Linked DNA regions of Homo sapiens: region 1 is linked to region 2. Evidence: fine-mapped expression QTL. Tissue or cell type: prefrontal cortex. Region 2 holds a variant in brackets; the other region holds the start of a gene. All regions are shown on one strand. Distances are between the middles of the regions.

Region 1 (8,112 bases), 53 kb after region 2:
CTCTCAACACAGATTATTGTTCTGAGATCCATCATAGGCAATATTGCTTATGGCTTTATGTTTTGTAATCTTTGAGATATTTGAAAGAATGGGAAAAATTTCATAATGCAATGCATATTTATATTACGGCATTCCCTTCCATTACTTTCCTAAGTAGCCCTTCTTTACTTTTTGGGAAATCACCATTCCATGTGTTCTTTGAAGTGTGGTCTTGAGATCTCTGGGGTTTTCTAAGTACCTTTCCAGAAGTTCACAAGCTCAAAACTATTTTTATAATAGAAAATTTTTAGCCATTCTCACTCTCATTCTCTCATAAGTACATAGTGAAATTTTCCAGAGGTTATATGAGGTGCTACCATAACAGATTAAATGAAATTGTAAATGATGTTGTGAGATTTCAGCTCTATTATCTTAACTTAGACAATAAAAATATTTGCAAAGGAAAATGATACCATTTTTACAACTAATTTCTTGAAAAACAGTGATTTTAACAAAAAGTACCAAATTATGTTTTATATAATAGTTTGTTAATATTATTTTAATATTAAATATTTAAATTTTGCTCTAATGTCTAATAATATAAATATTATGGATGTAATTCAGAGAAACTAAAATTCTGAGTATCTCAATAGTTTCTAGATGAGACAAAGATTCCTAGTACAAAGGAGAAGTACTACTGTCTACCACTTTCTATGTTTTATTATAATATAAACGTAAGGATCTTATACAGTGACATCACATAAGTGTAGTTAATCAGTCTCTGTTAGAACTTTCCTGGTTCTAACTCAGCTAAACTGATAAGTGCATTTCTATTATGGATTAATTACTAATTTTGATGCTTCTAAATCTTCATGAACAATCCAGTTTCTCCAAGATCCTGTCATTCTGATTCCCTGATATCCTTCCAATAAAATGCCTTGTGTGTATCTGCCAAATTATGTTTATCTTCCTTACAATCTATAACATCAGTTAGTAACATAAAAAAAATTCCCATGTCCCAAAATTGTGCCTACCTTCAGGTGTAAACAGATCAAATATTTAGCAAATTTTAATATTGAAATTAAAATGTTTTAAGGACTCTTCATTGATTCCTTGACAATAACAAGGAAAATTACCTTATTTTAACTTTGCATCCCTAAAGACACTGTACAACTCTGTAGCAACTAATGTAACCTGGATTGTATAATATTTATGCATGTACTGGCCTTATTTCTACAAAGAGAATAGCTGCAACTAAGAGTTGAGAACCAGGGGTAATCATTGTAATACTCTCAAAACTGCCACATGAATGTTGGTTCCCAGTTGTTCAGCATTTAATTGAATCAGAGTTGGGGTTTGTAATAAGTGTGCTTTTGTTTGTGTGTGAGTGTGTGTGACAGAGACAGAGAGTGAGAGAGAGAGAGAGAGAGAGAGACGGAGAAGGTTGGAGAGATAGGAGTAGAGAGAGAAATCATGTTTTATTATGTACGTGGCTGCATACATCAGTTGTCCTGTAACTTTGCCAGGTAGCTATTTTACAGCAGAAGTACACAAGCAAAGGAGTTAATAATTCCCCATTCTGTATGAGAAGAACAAGAGCATTTCTTGGTCCCCGAGAAGCTGAGAGAAAATTGAAAAAAGAACATAATGTTTGCCAGTATTGAGGAAAAGATGCCAGGCTGAAAAATCAGAGGGCAGTGGTTTTTGTGATTTCACCTGGGAGAGTCTGAGGAAATAGCTAGGATGATGTGTTGTGAGATTTACAGTCCAGAGTCAGCCCAATCTTAAGGGTGGCTGTGTCTCAACATGATACTTTGCCAGCTGAGAAAAACATTCCCAGGGAGATGGCAAAGAGGACGCTTCTCTGACAGTAAAATTCAAAGCTGCCAGCACATCCACCCTCTCACAGTTTTACCTGAATTCTTGCCTTCTTTCTGTTATAACTATATGCCACAGTAGCAGACAGTGTATGGCCAATAACCTCAAGATCATTTTTTGAGGGCAAATTATTAAGTTTGTTCTTCTCTAGATATGCACATTGACAAAGATCCCTACTGGAGTCCATCTGAAAAGACAAATTCATAACAATTAGCAATTTTTCTCTTATTGTGCTCACCAAAGTTCACATTTTGAACTTGTGATTTTTTTTACTTTGTTGGATTTTTATTTTTTTGCTGACTGTAGTAGAATATTACAGAAGTCTTCTGTGGACCTTAAAACTTTTCAGACATGGCTGGAAAACCTGCTAAACCATTTACTTGCTTGAGACCCTTGGACAGATTCTTTAACCAGATAGATCAGTTTTTTTTTCTCCTGTAAAAATGAGATGATAAATTATAACTAATGTGGTTTATTTTAATGATAAATAAGACCAATGTTTGTATAGGTGCTAGTGCATAGTGTATCCTCAACAAATTATACTTACTTATTTTATTAATGCTCCCAAATATTTTGTTTATTTAAATGCAAGATAGCTAAAATAATTCACCTGTTAGCAGAAAGAAGTTATTTCATTGTAAAAAGTCCAAATTATGTCACAGTTTGGCCTAAGATTAGATAAAGGAGGAATGGCTCAGAAGAGGCCAAAGTGAAGAAATGGCACAGAGTCAGACATTAATATTTATGTCTAGATTTTTATGGATACAAATATGACCCAATACTGCTCATTTAGAAAAGAAACAATTTTCTCCTCTTATTCTTACAGCTTTCCCAATCTTGGTGAGACCAAAGCAGTTGATGAATGGATAAAGTGGATAAATACCTTCATTCAGGCTCTTCCATAACTGTGCCATTGGCGGTTCAGTCCGGCTGATCTAGCAGGGGTATTGTGCTTACAATAAAAATGGCTTGGGGATGGTTCCATAAAGTAGTAGGGATATAGGGAACCAAGTTACAACTGGCAACATTAAATTCACTCAGACAATGAGGGAAACAGAGAATAAAACTTTACAGACCAAATATGTTAATGCCTATGTAATTGTATTTGAATATTGACATGTGATACCCACCCACCACCTTAAATAAACACATACAAAAGAAGTCTGCAATAACATCCTTTTGTCTTATTGACAACAAGTATGGCCATGCTACTATATGACTGTATTTGTGGTGTTTCGGCTGTGAACAGTGTACTCTGTGAGAATGTGTGTGTATGAGTGTATGTGTGTGTAAGAGAGAGGGGCAGAGAGAAAGGGGGGAGAGAGAGAGATACACAGACAGAAATTCTGTGCATTACTAATTGGTACACCACTGCCCTCACCAATCCCATGTGCTCTGTTGTGTTCCTCTGTGAAGAAAATGGTGCAATGGTGCTTAGGATAATTCCTCAGAAAAGTGGAAGAATCTGGCCTCTCTATCCTCATTTGCCCTCTTCTTCTCTCCTGTGTATCTTTTCACTTCTCCTGCACAAGCATTCTTACCTCTGTAATATTTCTTCTCCCAGCCCTCACTTGGAGCAGAATTGGAGCATGAGTCCAGGTTCTTAAAGACCGTGATTAGGTTCCCCTTGAAGCCTCTGAGCAACAAGCCTGCTTGGTAAAGTGGAGGCAACTTTATAGTGAGTGAGAGCATCCCTATGACCAGGCATGTCCCAGAATCCCCGAGCCTAGTCTTCGGAATCCTCTGGGCAGAAACATGGACTCGAGGGTCATTAAGTCATAGTAAGTCTTTATTCCTCTTCACTGCATCTGCAGAGAAACACCATGCTAGATATAACTCCTTAGCTCAGGGGAGCAGATGTGTTATGAAAGGATGGGAAGGGAGCTATCCTGAAGAGAGAGGAATCTGTTTGGGGAATGATGTTAATTCCGCTTCCCTCAGGAGCCATGAAAGCATTGATTTTGGACCATTAACTCTTCACAGTGTGACCATGAAACTGTTCTCAGCAACTTTTCTGTTTTAATATGTTTGTGTAAATCCTGATGTAGTTTCACAGCTGTTACAATTGAGGCTTCAAAAGATGAAGGAGAAGACATCTCAAATAGACAAATTAGACTCTGTGGTACAACTCTGTTTATTGGCAGTGTGCATGCCTGCAGATAATAGCAGCAACTTTCTTCCAACCCACCAAGATTCTCCTTCTCAGTCTATAACTAATGGTGAACAGATAGTCTTTGAAGAGAGGCTTTCATGTGTTTCAGCTCTTTTGGCAGAAAGTGAAGAAAATTCTACGTTTTCCTTATAAAACATATTATATTGTCCCTTCCAGCCAGAGCAGAGGTAGTGTTTCCTGAGAGGCTCCCTTCCTGAATGATGACATAGTAGACCCGATAGTACTACCAGGACATGCTGCAGAGCCTGGTTTTCCTGACTATAGTTAGAAATAGACTGAGGGAAAAATAAGTACATTAGACAATTAGTTGGTATTTTTTGCCTCCTAAGTTCAGACTATTTTGAGTTGTTAGCACAGAAACAGCAATGTCGTCTGTGGTCCAAGAGAGATTCTGGTTTGATCTGCCACGTTCTTGTGTTCATTACTTCTCTTTTGATTAATGAGAAAGTAACTCCTGAGGTTCCTGTTTCTCCCTCATTGTGTCCATCTTCCTTACTGTATCCACATTTATCTTCCCAAATCAAGTCTGACTCTATCCAATTTCTGCTTAAAATTCCTTCCCATGACCCCTACATTCTCCATTGTATACTGTAGACTTTATGTAATAAGGGGCAAACACCATTGTTGCCAAAGTCCTTCACTCAATACCCAATCAACTTTTTATACTTTCATTATACTACATGACTCCCGAACACACATCTTGTCTTTGATAATCAAAAGTCCTCCATATGAAATAACTTCATCTCATTTCTACTTTGCTTCAGCACTTTCTCAATTGTCCTATACTTCTTAATGACCTTTCATATGAATCAATCTGATATAATCTTTGTGTCTTTTGTATTTTCACATCAGTGTGTGCCACTATTATAACAGGCAAATTTTATTTTGTGTTGGTTTTGTGTTTTCTGTCTTCCATTATTTTATGGATTGATATTAGAGTGATGTTTAAGTCAACTTTATCCTTCAGTTCACTTAGTATAGTGCTTTGATTGTAGGAGGTGTTCTGGCATTGAATTACATTATTTTTAAAACATAAAAATTCTAGTTCTGTTAGGGTCATATCATATAATCATATATCTCCTAATTGGTCACTGTACCTACCCCTCTCCTATTCCCAAGACTATTTCACTGTGACTTCTAGAATCAATTTTTTATGAGCAGTGATATTATTTTTGGCCTTAAACCACTTCTGATGTTCTGTTTCTCTTCCTTTTGAAACAGAAACCCAGCTGTTCCCTGAGGACATTACTTCTGAAAAGTGTTGAAGGATTGGATATATTTTCCCACTATTTTCACTGTTTCCTCATGCCAAATAGCCTAAAGGCCTAGAGACTTTTTGTCTTGGACTTTTGACAGTTTGACATTATAATGCCTCGGGGAGGACCTTCTTGAGTTGAATTTACATAGGGGATTTTGAGCTTTCGGATCTGGATATCTACATCTCTCTTCATATTTGGAAAGTTTTCAGCTGTTATTTTATTAAATAGGTTTCCTTTGTCCTTTTCTTTCTCTTCTCCTTCTAGAATTCTCATAATACAAATATTTGTTTACTTAATGGCATCCCATTAAGGAACACCATTATTTCTTTACTTTTTTAAATCCTTCTTTTGTTTTTCTTTGACTTATTTCAAACAACCTGTCAACAGATTCTTCTGCTTGACCAAGTCTGCTATTGAATCTCTCTATTGTAACTTGAAAACTTATTCATTGAATTCTTCAGCTACAGGATTTCTATTTGATTTTTATGATTTTTATCTTCTGTTGAATTTCTCATTTGTTTCATGAATTGTTTTCCTGATTTTATTGAATTGTCTATGCTGTATATTCTTGTATTTTATTGAGTCTTCTCAGCATCATTATTTTGATTTTTTTTCTTTGGCAATTTGTTGATTTTCTTTTTACTGGAGTCTGTTACTACAGTGTTATGTTCCTTTGGTGGTATCATATGTCTTTGCCTTTTCATGTTTCTTGTGTCTCTATATTGATGCCTGTGTATCTGCTTATCTCCAAACTTTCCAGAGTGGTTTTTATACAGGACAACTATCACCTGCAGTTGGGTTTTAGTGTGCCAGTTGGGAAGAGTGTGGTGACTCTGTTTCCAGATGGGTGTAGCATAGTCTCCGTGCAGCTTCCTGAGCTGAGTTTAATGTCAGCAATAACTGTGGGTGCCTCAGTGGCTTAGACTGTAGAAGTTTGTAGTGGCACAGCAGTAGTGGTGGCACAATTTGTTTATGTCCTTAGTGTCAAGGGCTTTTGGGGTCCTCTTATTTTTAATTTTTCCCGCAGTGAGGGGACTCAGCTGACAGAATCCCTCAGATTTGACATGGCCTATAAGCAGCTGCAGCAGCGCTGGGCTCGAAGTACAGTGGCTTGGAGTGGCTGTGGAGCCAGGGTTCTAGGCTCAGGGTCTCACAAATGAGCACTCCTCTCCTTCAGTTACTTTCATTAAAATGTAATTATTAATTCATTGTTCTGGCTATCGGTGTGAGGCAACTAAGAGCTGGAACATTTTAGTAGTCCATCTTGCTCACATTGTCAAGATTAACCCCTTGATGAGAGGATATTAACTATCACATTGAAAGGGCAGTGACATAGAGGCAATTATTTTTCAATATATAATTGATTTACTTTGGCTATTCATTTGATCTTGCTTCATTTATTAAAAAGCTGTTTGTCATAAATTATACATTTATACATGTGTATTTTTGTGTTTGGACTGTGTGGTTCTGCTTTTTGTCTGTTCTTGTACAAGTATTTCACAGTTTTCATAAGTGATACTATAAAATAAATTATGGAATATAATAACATAAATCCTAAAATTTTGTTCTTCAGGATTTCCAGCCAATTTCTTTTAAAATGTTTATAACACTTTGAAAACAAAAACAAGAGGACAAATAAGCAAACAAATTCATTAAAATATTTATTGCATTGAATATATAGTTCAATTTTAGAGAATGTTTTTAAAAGGTTATTGATTATTCCAAATCATGAACTAGGTATATCTTTTCATGTATTTATGTATTTAAAAAGTTCCTTTGAAGGATTATTATGCTTTTATTTTAGAAGTTTTGCATATCATTTGTTAGAGTTAGGTCAAAGCATTTGATGTTCTGTGATGCCATTTATTTATTTATTTATTTATTTTATTTATTTATTTTTATTATACTTTAAGTTTTAGGGTACATGTGCACAATGTGCAGGTTTGTTACATATGTATAAATGTGCCATGATTGTGTGCTGCACCCATTAACTCATCATTTAACATTAGGTATATCTCCTAATGCTATCCCTCCCCGCTGCCCCCACCCCACAATAGGCCCCGGTGTGTGACGTTCCGCTTCCTGTGTCCATGTGTTTTCATTGTTCAATTCCCACCTATGAGTGAGAACATGCAGTGTTTGGTTTTTTTGTCCTTGCGATAGTTTGCTGAGAATGATGGTTTCCAGCTTCATCCATGTCCCTACAAAGGACATGAACTCATCATTTTTATGGCTGCATAGTATTCCATGGTGTATATGTGCCACATTTTCTTCATCCAGTCTATCATTGTTGGACATTTGGCTTGGTTCCAAGTCTTTGCTATTGTGAATAGTGCCGCAATAAACATACGTGTGCATGTGTCTTTATAGCAGCATGATTTATAATCCTTTGGGTATGTACCCAGTAATGGGATTGCTGGGTCAAATGGTATTTCTAGTTCTAGATCCCTGAGGAATCGCCACACTGACTTCCACAATGGTTGAACTAGTTTACAGTGCCACCAACAGTGTAAAAGTGTTCCTATTTCTCCACATCCTCTCCAGCACCTGTTGTTTCCTGACTTTTTAATGATCGATGCCATTTAAAAATATATAATTTTCAAGATTTTAATTTATAAATTTTTTATTAGTATATAAAAATATAATTTAAAAAATTTTATTATTATTTTTTATAGAAACAGGGTCTCCATAAGTTGCCTAGGCTGGTCTTGAAATCCTGGGCTTAAGTAACCCTCCTGCATATGGCCAAAATTGACATAAACAACACATTCATGGTTTTCAAAAATGGCAATAGAAAATAAAAAATGGTAGTCTAAGGTTCAT
Region 2 (8,112 bases):
ATGAGAGAGACGGGTAAGCACAAGGTGTGATTACCAGTTGAGTTAAGAACTTTAGTTAGCATGGAGTTACACCAGAAGTAGCCTCCGGGTGGTGCCGGGGCACTGGTAAGCATCCTGGTCTGGTTACACCAAGAGGCATTTGGGATGGAGTAACAGAACGGGAACTTGTGTCTTGTAGGGTCTGAGAATAGTGGGACCTGTCCTTTCGGGACCGGTGGTATAGGGGTGGATGAATTTCTTGTATAATTAAAGGGGGTAGGGAGAGGAACTGCCACTAAGGGAGGTCTTCCAAGGGCCGCACAGAGGAAGCAGTGGGAGAGGTTTTGTACCCCTGTGGATTGGAGCAGTTGTGTACCTTCTGAGATTAAAGTTAACCACGAGAAGGGGGAGGACATGGCCTGGTCAGCTGCCAGTTGAAGCTGGTTGGCAAGCCTTCTCGGCCGACTGGATTGAGGAGGCTAAGTCGGATAACCCTGTGACAGTGGTTTTAAGGGTCCTGGCAATGCGGATCTTAGCTACCGGATACATAAAAGTTCTGTGCTCATATAGTCCTCCATCTATACCGGAGGCCCAGCGGGGGTCTCAAGGGTCAGAGATTTGGAGGTTAAATCCGTTAAAGCCTCCTGAAGTGTTGACAGAGAACATGGTATCCTTTCTATAAATGGATGCCTCATGGATATTGCACCAGTGCCACAGGCAGCCTACATTTTCTTTGACCCAGGTGGTATTGCATTTGGAGTTACTTTGATCATACAGGAAGCAAAGCGCTGGGTTTTTTGTATTTGGGCCTAAGGAGGAGAATTTTAGACCTAGGAAAGTTATGGGTGCCTGGCACCTTGCTGGCGGGCATGCTGCCGTGGCTACTAGTCTAGAGGAGACTGCCTGTCCGGAATTCCAATTCTCAGTGAGGAAAAAAACCCAGTGAGAGGGAGTCTGAGAGGGGGCTTGTCTACTACGACTGGTGTGCAAGAGTAAGAAGAGTGACAAGACAAAAAAAGCGAACTTCTTGTTGGTGAAAGTTCTGGAGGGAGCCTTGCCACACTAGTTCGTCTATATAGGCTAACAGATTTTCAGGCCAGTGAAGTGTGTTAGCAAAAGTAGGGAATGACCAGCTTTCCTCGAGAAGAACTTGAATAAATTGTTGGAGCCTGTCACACGGAGAATTCATGCGGTATTTGATTTAGAGAGTTTCAGTTTGGTTGGGGAGAGGGAGGTGACAGTCCAAGTGGCCTGATCTTGTGTAGGTGCCCTCTTAAGATGGGAAATATGGTACCAGGAAGGAAGGCCTATAAGTTTAGCTGCCGTCAGTGTTGTAAGAATTACCGTATGGGGCCTTTCCACCGGGGGGAGAGGCCTCTTGCCTGGAGGTCTTTTACTAGTACCTGATCTCCTGGGGTTATTATGGCCAGACTGTCTGGGCCGAGTGGTCCGGGCTTTGGAAGGCTGCGGTCGGCGTGCTCTCTTAGCAGCTCCCTTAACAGGGTGAGGTAGGGCAGGTACGTGCTAAGAGGTGGGGTATTCACAGGGAGCTCTTGAAAGAGGAAGGGGCGCCCCTATAGGAGTTCAAAGGGGCTAAGTCCTGTGGGGCTTCGGGGTGCTGCCCGGAGCCGCGCGAGGGCAAAGGGAAGTAAGGTTACCCACGATTGGCGTGTCTCCAGAGCCAGTTTGATTAGGTGTTGTTTGACAAGGCCGTTGGCGCGTTCCACTTTTCCAGAAGACTGTGGATGGTATGGAGTGTGTAGCTTCCAGTTAACGCCAAGTGTGGTTGTCACCTGTTTGACTATCTTGGAGATAAAAGCAGGCCCATTTTCAGATTGGATTGTCCGAGGGAGGCCAAATCTCGGGATTATGTGTTCAATGAGGGTTGAAGCTACCACCTCTGCTGTTTCATGAGTGGTGGGATAGGCTTCAATCCAACCTGAGAAAGTATCTACTAGAGTAAGAAGATAACGGAACTTTTTTTTTTTTTTTAATTTATTTATTTTTTATTGATAATTCTCGGGTGTTTCTCACAGAGGGAGATTTGGCAGGGTCATAGGACAATAGTGGAGGGAAGGTCAGCAGATAAACAAGTGAACAAAGGTCTCTGGTTTTCCTAGGCAGAGGACCCCGCGGCCTTCCGCAGTGTTTGTGTCCCTGGGTACTTGAGATTAGGGAGTGGTGATGACTCTTAACGAGCATGCTGCCTTCAAGCATCTGTTTAACAAAGCACATCTTGCACCGCCCTTAATCCATTTAACCCTGAGTGAACACAGCACATGTTTCAGAGAGCACAGGGTTGGGGGTAAGGTCACAGATCAACAGGATCCCACGGCAGAAGAAGTTTTCTTAGTACAGAACATAATGAAAAGTCTCCCATGTCTACTTCTTTCTACACAGACACGGCAACCATCCGATTTCTCAATCTTTTCCCCACCTTTCCCGCCCTTCTATCCACAAAGCCTCCATTGTCATCTTGGCCCGTTCTCAATGAGCTGTTGGGCACACCTCCCAGACGGGGTGGTGGCCGGGCAGAGGTGCTCCTCACATCCCAGACGGGGTGGCGGGGCAGAGGCGCTCCCCACATCTCAGACGATGGGCGGCCGGGCAGAGACGCTCCTCACTTCCTAGATGTGATGGCAGCCAGGAAGAGGTGCTCCTCACTTCCTAGGTGGGATGGCGGCCGGGCGGAGACGCTCCTCACTTTCCAGACTGGGCAGCCAGGCAGAGGGGCTCCTCACATCCCAGACGATGGGCGGCCAGGCAGAGACGCTCCTCACTTCCCAGACGGCGTGGCAGCCGGGCAGAGGCTGCAATCTTGGCACTTTGGGAGGCCAAGGCAGGCAGCTGGGAGGTGGAGGTTGTAGCGAGCCGAGATCACGCCACTGCACTCCAGCCTGGGCACCATTGAGCACTGAGTGAACGAGACTCCGTCTGCAATCCCGGCACCTCGGGAGGCCGAGGCTGGCGGATCACCTGCGGTTAGGGACTGGAGACCGGCCTGGCCAACACGGCGAAACCCCGTCTCCACCAAAACCAGTCAGGCGTGGCGGCGCGAGCCTGCAATCGCAGGCACTCGGCAGGCTGAGTCAGGAGAATCAGGCAGGGAGGTTGCAGTGAGCCAAGATGGCAGCAGTACAGTCCAGCTTCGGCTCAGCATGAGAGGGAGACCGTGGAAAGAGAGGGAGAGGGAGACCGTGGGGAGAGGGAGAGGGAGAGG[AAGAGGG/G]AGAGCTCCTAATTTTGTATTTTTAGTAGAGACGGGGTTTCTTCATGTTGCTCAGGCTGTGTCTTGAACTCCCGATCTCAGGTGATCTGCCCGCCTCGGCCTCTCAAAGTCCTGGGATTACAGGCGTGATCCACTGCACCTGGCCCCAAGCTGCCGATCTCATCTGAAAACAAAGAGACCCATCTTGGCTGGGGGAGTCAGGGAGGGCTTTCCCTGTAGAGGAGTCTGAGGAGCTGAAATCTGAAGGACCAGGAGCGATAACGGAACTTTTTGTGTCTAGGCATGTGGGTGAAGTCAACTTGCCAGTCTTCTCCTGGCTGATGTTCTCTTAGCTGGTGACAGGGACCTGGGAGCTTAAGTTTTCCCTGAGGGTTTGCCACTGTGCAAACATGGCATTCCTGATGTATTTGCTTCAGTAAGGAATAAAGGGAAGGATGGTAGATTATGGGTTCAAGAAAGTTATATAAAGCCTTTGGGCCTATATGTAACGAACGGTGCATGTCGGTGAGGATGAGTTTCTTCTGACTGCACGGGAGAACTACTCTATCATCCACGAATATCCAGCCCTGATTACTCTTGTTAGGGGTGTGGCTATGAAAGCGCTCATTGGAGTTGGTTTTTACTCCTGAGTGACCCATGAGGTGGACTAGCTCTTCAGGGGAGTAATCGGGAGTGTAAGCAGGAGAGAGGAAGCACACAGGAGTGGGGGAAGGGGCCAAGAGGGCCGTGGCCCGGGCAGTGGTGTTGGCGAAATTGTTGCCTAATGATATAGGGTCTTTAGAATTTTGGTGGCTTTTGCAATGGATGATGGCTACCTGTGTGGGGGCTTTTAGCACCTGGATGAGTTTCTCAATGAGGGGTCCATTGACAATAGGAGTACCTTTAGTGGTAAGGAACCCCCGTTCCTGCCAGAGAATGGAGTAGGTATGCGCTATTAAGTAGGCATACTTGGAATCAGTGTATATGTTTACTTTTTTGTTTTTAGATAGAATTAGAGCTCTAGTAAGAGCTATGAGTTCTGCCTTCTGGGAGGTTATACCAGTGGGAAGTGGTTTGGCCTCAACTACTTGAGATGAGGTGACCACGGCGTATGCCGCTCGTCGTTGGCCCTGCGGCGTGGAGATGGAGCTACCATCCACAGACAGGGTCTGATGGGGATCTAGGATGGGGTTGTCTTGGAGGCTTAGGTGCGCGGGGGGTAGGGTTGATAGGATTTAAGAACACGAGTGTAAGGATGCAGGGTCCTTTTCTGGGCAGGGGAGGAGGGTAGCTGGGTTTAAAGTTGGAGAGGTAGTAAGTGTGATGTGTGGGTTTTCAATAAACAGGAGATGAAATAGCTGGAGTCTGGAGGGGGTCAGGTGACTCAGGCACTTGTGTGAGAGTAAGTCTTGTAGCCTATGTGAGGAGAAAACAGTGAGAGGGTGCCCTAAGGTAAGCTTAAGAGCCTCTTTGGTGAGTTTCGCTGCCGCAGCCAAAGCCTGCAGGCACGGCTGCCAGCCCTGGACAGTGGGCTCGAGCTGCTTGGAAAGGTAGGCTACTGGCTGGTGTGTTCTTCCTACCAGTTGGGCCAGGAGCCCTGTAGCAACCTTTTCCCGCTCATCGGTAAAGAGATGGAATGGGCGTAGCGGGTTTGGGAGTGAGAGGACTGGGGCTGTTATGAGGCAATTTTTAAGCTTATTGAAAAGATTGGCTACTAGTTTTGGCTCAGACAGTGGGCCAAGGGGGGTCTGTTTGGTGGCCTGATACAGGGGCCTTGCTAGGACTCCGAAATTGGGGACCCAATGTCTGAAAAAGCCGACTAGCCCCAAGAAGGAGAGAATATCTTCAGCATCTTGTGGAGGCTGAAGATTTTGTAAAAGGCTGATTCTGTCTGAGGTTAGGCCTTTTGAGTTTGGGGTGAGACGTATACCTAAGTAGGTGACTTTAGAGGTACATAGTTGGGCTTTGGACGGGGTGACTCTATAGCCTCAGTTTCCTAGGAAGTTTAAGAGAGTACAAGTGTCCTTAAGGCAATCTGTCTCAGAGGGGCTGCAAAGGAGCAGGTCATCAACATATTGGATAACAGTACTGGCCTCCAAAGGGCAGCGAGCGAGGTCTTGGGCCAGTGCCTGTCCAAAGAAATGAGGGCTGTCTCTAAACCCCTGTAGCAGAACCGTCCAGGTGAGTTGTTTAGAGACGCCAGTGTCTGGGTCCTCCCATGTGAAAGCAAAGAGGAAGTAACAAGCGGGGTCTAGTGGGATAGAGAAAAAGGCATCTTTAAGGTCCAGAACAGTGAAGTGAGACCTGTTGGGGGGGATGCGAGAGAGGAGTGTGTATGGATTAGGAACTACCGGGACTGTAGGGATGACTGCCTCGTTGATGAGGCGAAGATCTTGTACTAGACGGTAAGTCCCAGAGGCTTTTCGTACCGGCAGAATAGGAGTATTGCAAGGAGAATTAGTGGTAATTAGGATGTGTTGTTGTAGAAGCCGAATAATAATGGGTTTTAGTCCTCGACGGTGCTCTAAGGAAATGGGGAACTGAGGTCGGGCAGGGAACTTGAGTGGGTCCTTTAACTTAATAAGGACTGGCTTATGGTGTGTGGCAACAACGGGAGTGTTGGTGTCCCAAACTTTGGGGTCAACGGGGGTAGGGAAGACTAATGGCAGGGTTGGAGAGGCCTGGGCTGCTGTATCGGCTGAGAGGAGGGGTAGGAGAAGAGCTAGGTGGGTGGATGGGCCGGGCCGGAAGACTACTGAGGCTCCTAACTTGGTCAGGAGATCTCTCCCTAGGAGAGGGACTGGACATGAAGGGATGATGAGGAAAGAGTGTGTGAAGAACGAGTGGTCTAGGCGGCAGGGCAGTGAAGGTGTCTGGCGGTAGGTGGAGGGAGTGCCATCAATCCCCATAACAGAGATTGAGGAGGGTTGGCTGGGCCCACTAAAAGATGGCAAAACAGAGTAGGTAGCCCCTGGGTCCAGTAAAAAGGAAATGGACTTACCTGCTACCTGAAGCATTACCCTGAGCTTGGCAAGGGTGAGAGGGGTTCCCGAGTCTGGGCCTCTTCAGTCATCGTCCAGTTGGAGGAGCTGGAAGGCGCCTTCACCATCCGGGGAGGGGTCGCCATGTGGAGACACAGCGGCCGCTCTGAGGCCGGGGCAGTCTGACCTCCAGTGCCCCATTTGTCGGCAGTTAGGGCACGGGCGCATTGGCGGCTTGGGGTTTGGGCACTGCTTTGCCCAATGACCTGGATTGCCGCACTTGAAACAGTTGTAAGGCAGGCAGGACGGTTGCTGTTGGCTAGGGCACCGGCTGGCCCAGTGTCCCGAGTTGCCGCACTTGAAGCAGGCGCCAGATGGGGCCCGGGAGATTGTACCTCTACCTTTCTTGCCTGGGCTCTTAGGGAATGCCGGTTGCACGGCAGCCGCCAGGGCCTGGGTTTGGAGCTGAACTTTTTGTTTTAATCTTGCCTGTTGTTGTACCTCAGCCGCCTCCTCTCGGGAATTAAAAACTTTGAACGCCAGCTTTACTAAGTCCTGAATAGGGGTTTGGAGGCCTTCCTCCGCCTATTTTAGTTTTTTTCTAATATCTCTTGCTGACTGGGAAATAAAATATGTTGCCAAGATGGTTGCCCCTGCAGGGGAGGCCGGATCTAGGCGGGTATAGTGGACTAAGGCATCAGTCAGCCGATTTAGGAAGACTGCCGGATTTTCATCCGGGTATTGTACAATTTCCTTTAGTTTGTCAAAGTTGACTGATTTATTGGAGGCCACCTGCATCCCTGCCAGGAGGCATTGAACCATTATGTCCCGGCGGCGACGCCCTGCTTGCCCAACTTGGTAATCCCACTCTGGATCGGTGGATGGAACCGCCTGTGTTCCAACGGGTACGTTGGGGTCTGTTAGATGTAATTGATTGGCATGCTGCCGTGCTGCAATTAGAATGCGTTCTCTTTCCTCAGGGGAAAGGGTGGAGGTAAGAATAATATGGATATCGTGCCAAGTGAGGTCATAAACCTGACAGAGATAGTGAAATTCTTTTGTGAAAAGAGTAGGGTTGGTGGAGAAAGAGCCTAGGTGTCTTTCTATTTTGGACAAATCAACGAGGGAGAAAGGCACATGAACTCGAACAATGCCTTCTGCTCCAGCCACTTCGCGCAGCGGGGCAAGGAGTGCCGGCCTGGCCTGGGTGTGTGCGGCCACAGGGGACTTGGGAGGGGCAGGTGAGGGTAGTGGTGGAGGAGGAGGAGATGATGGAGGTGGAGGAGGAGGTGGCGTGATTGGCGAAGGAGGGACCCGTGAGGAAGTGGGCGGTGCGTGACCTGAAGGTGGAGCCGAGGGGGGTGGGGAAGCGTATGGTGGCGGCAGAGCATGGGCTGCAGTTTGGAGGGGAGGGGAAGATAAGTTATCTATGGGGTCTGAGAGAGGAGAAAGATCATCTTTGTCCGGATCAGGAGAGGTTTTGGGAGAGGTTTTAGCTAAAAGGACTTGCACTAGTGAACACGGGGCGCAGAGGTCTGGTGGAGAGTGAAGGTCCCAGAACCCTTGAACATATTTGATTTCTGACCATTTGCCTTGCTTCTGACAAAAATTGGTAAGGTCGTTTAGGATATTGAAGTTGAGTGTGCCTTCGGGGGGCCAGCGAGATTGGTTGTCTAAGGTATATTGCGGCCAGGCAACTGTGCAGAAGAAAATTAGTCGCTTTCGTTTTAAATCTTGGTCGAGTTGTAAAGTTGGGAGGTTGCGCAGGAGGCACCCTAAGGGGGTGTTTTGCACGATTTTGGACTGGGTGGACCCCATCCCCTTCCCTTTATGGCCACGGTCTGAGGGACAGCAGAAGCATCCTTCTGGGGTCACTCAGACCACGTGGCTCCTGGAGCCTCGGATCGGCTACTTCAGACACAGACGTCTCCGAGTAGTCAGTGCCGA

Which allele goes with the higher level. Alleles are on the strand shown, and positions count from the first base shown. SD is a standard deviation of normalised expression in the study named.
For the expression in prefrontal cortex of the gene that starts at base 3,484 in region 1, allele AAGAGGG in region 2 goes with a higher level than allele G (moderate effect, 0.51 SD a copy in CommonMind).

Evidence for each region. PIP is the estimated chance that this variant, and not a neighbour inherited with it, causes the effect.
Region 1: OR52E4 starts here. The variant in region 2 is fine-mapped to the expression of OR52E4 in prefrontal cortex (CommonMind, PIP 0.90).

The regions. Positions count from the first base shown.
Region 1 is chr11:5,876,001-5,884,112 of GRCh38, reverse strand. OR52E4 (olfactory receptor family 52 subfamily E member 4) reads right to left here and starts at 3,484. Exons shown (of 2, transcript NM_001005165.2): 1 at 3,399-3,484. It overlaps LOC112268071 (a long non-coding RNA gene), which reads left to right. Exons shown (of 3, transcript XR_002957231.2): 3 at 2,684-3,018.
Region 2 is chr11:5,929,087-5,937,198 of GRCh38, reverse strand. All of the region lies in intron 2 of LOC112268071 (a long non-coding RNA gene), which reads left to right. Among named protein-coding and RNA genes, the nearest start is that of OR56A3, 9.1 kb to the left of the region's middle. RefSeq lists an enhancer at 8,110-8,112. The variant AAGAGGG/G (reference allele first, on the strand shown) is at 3,200.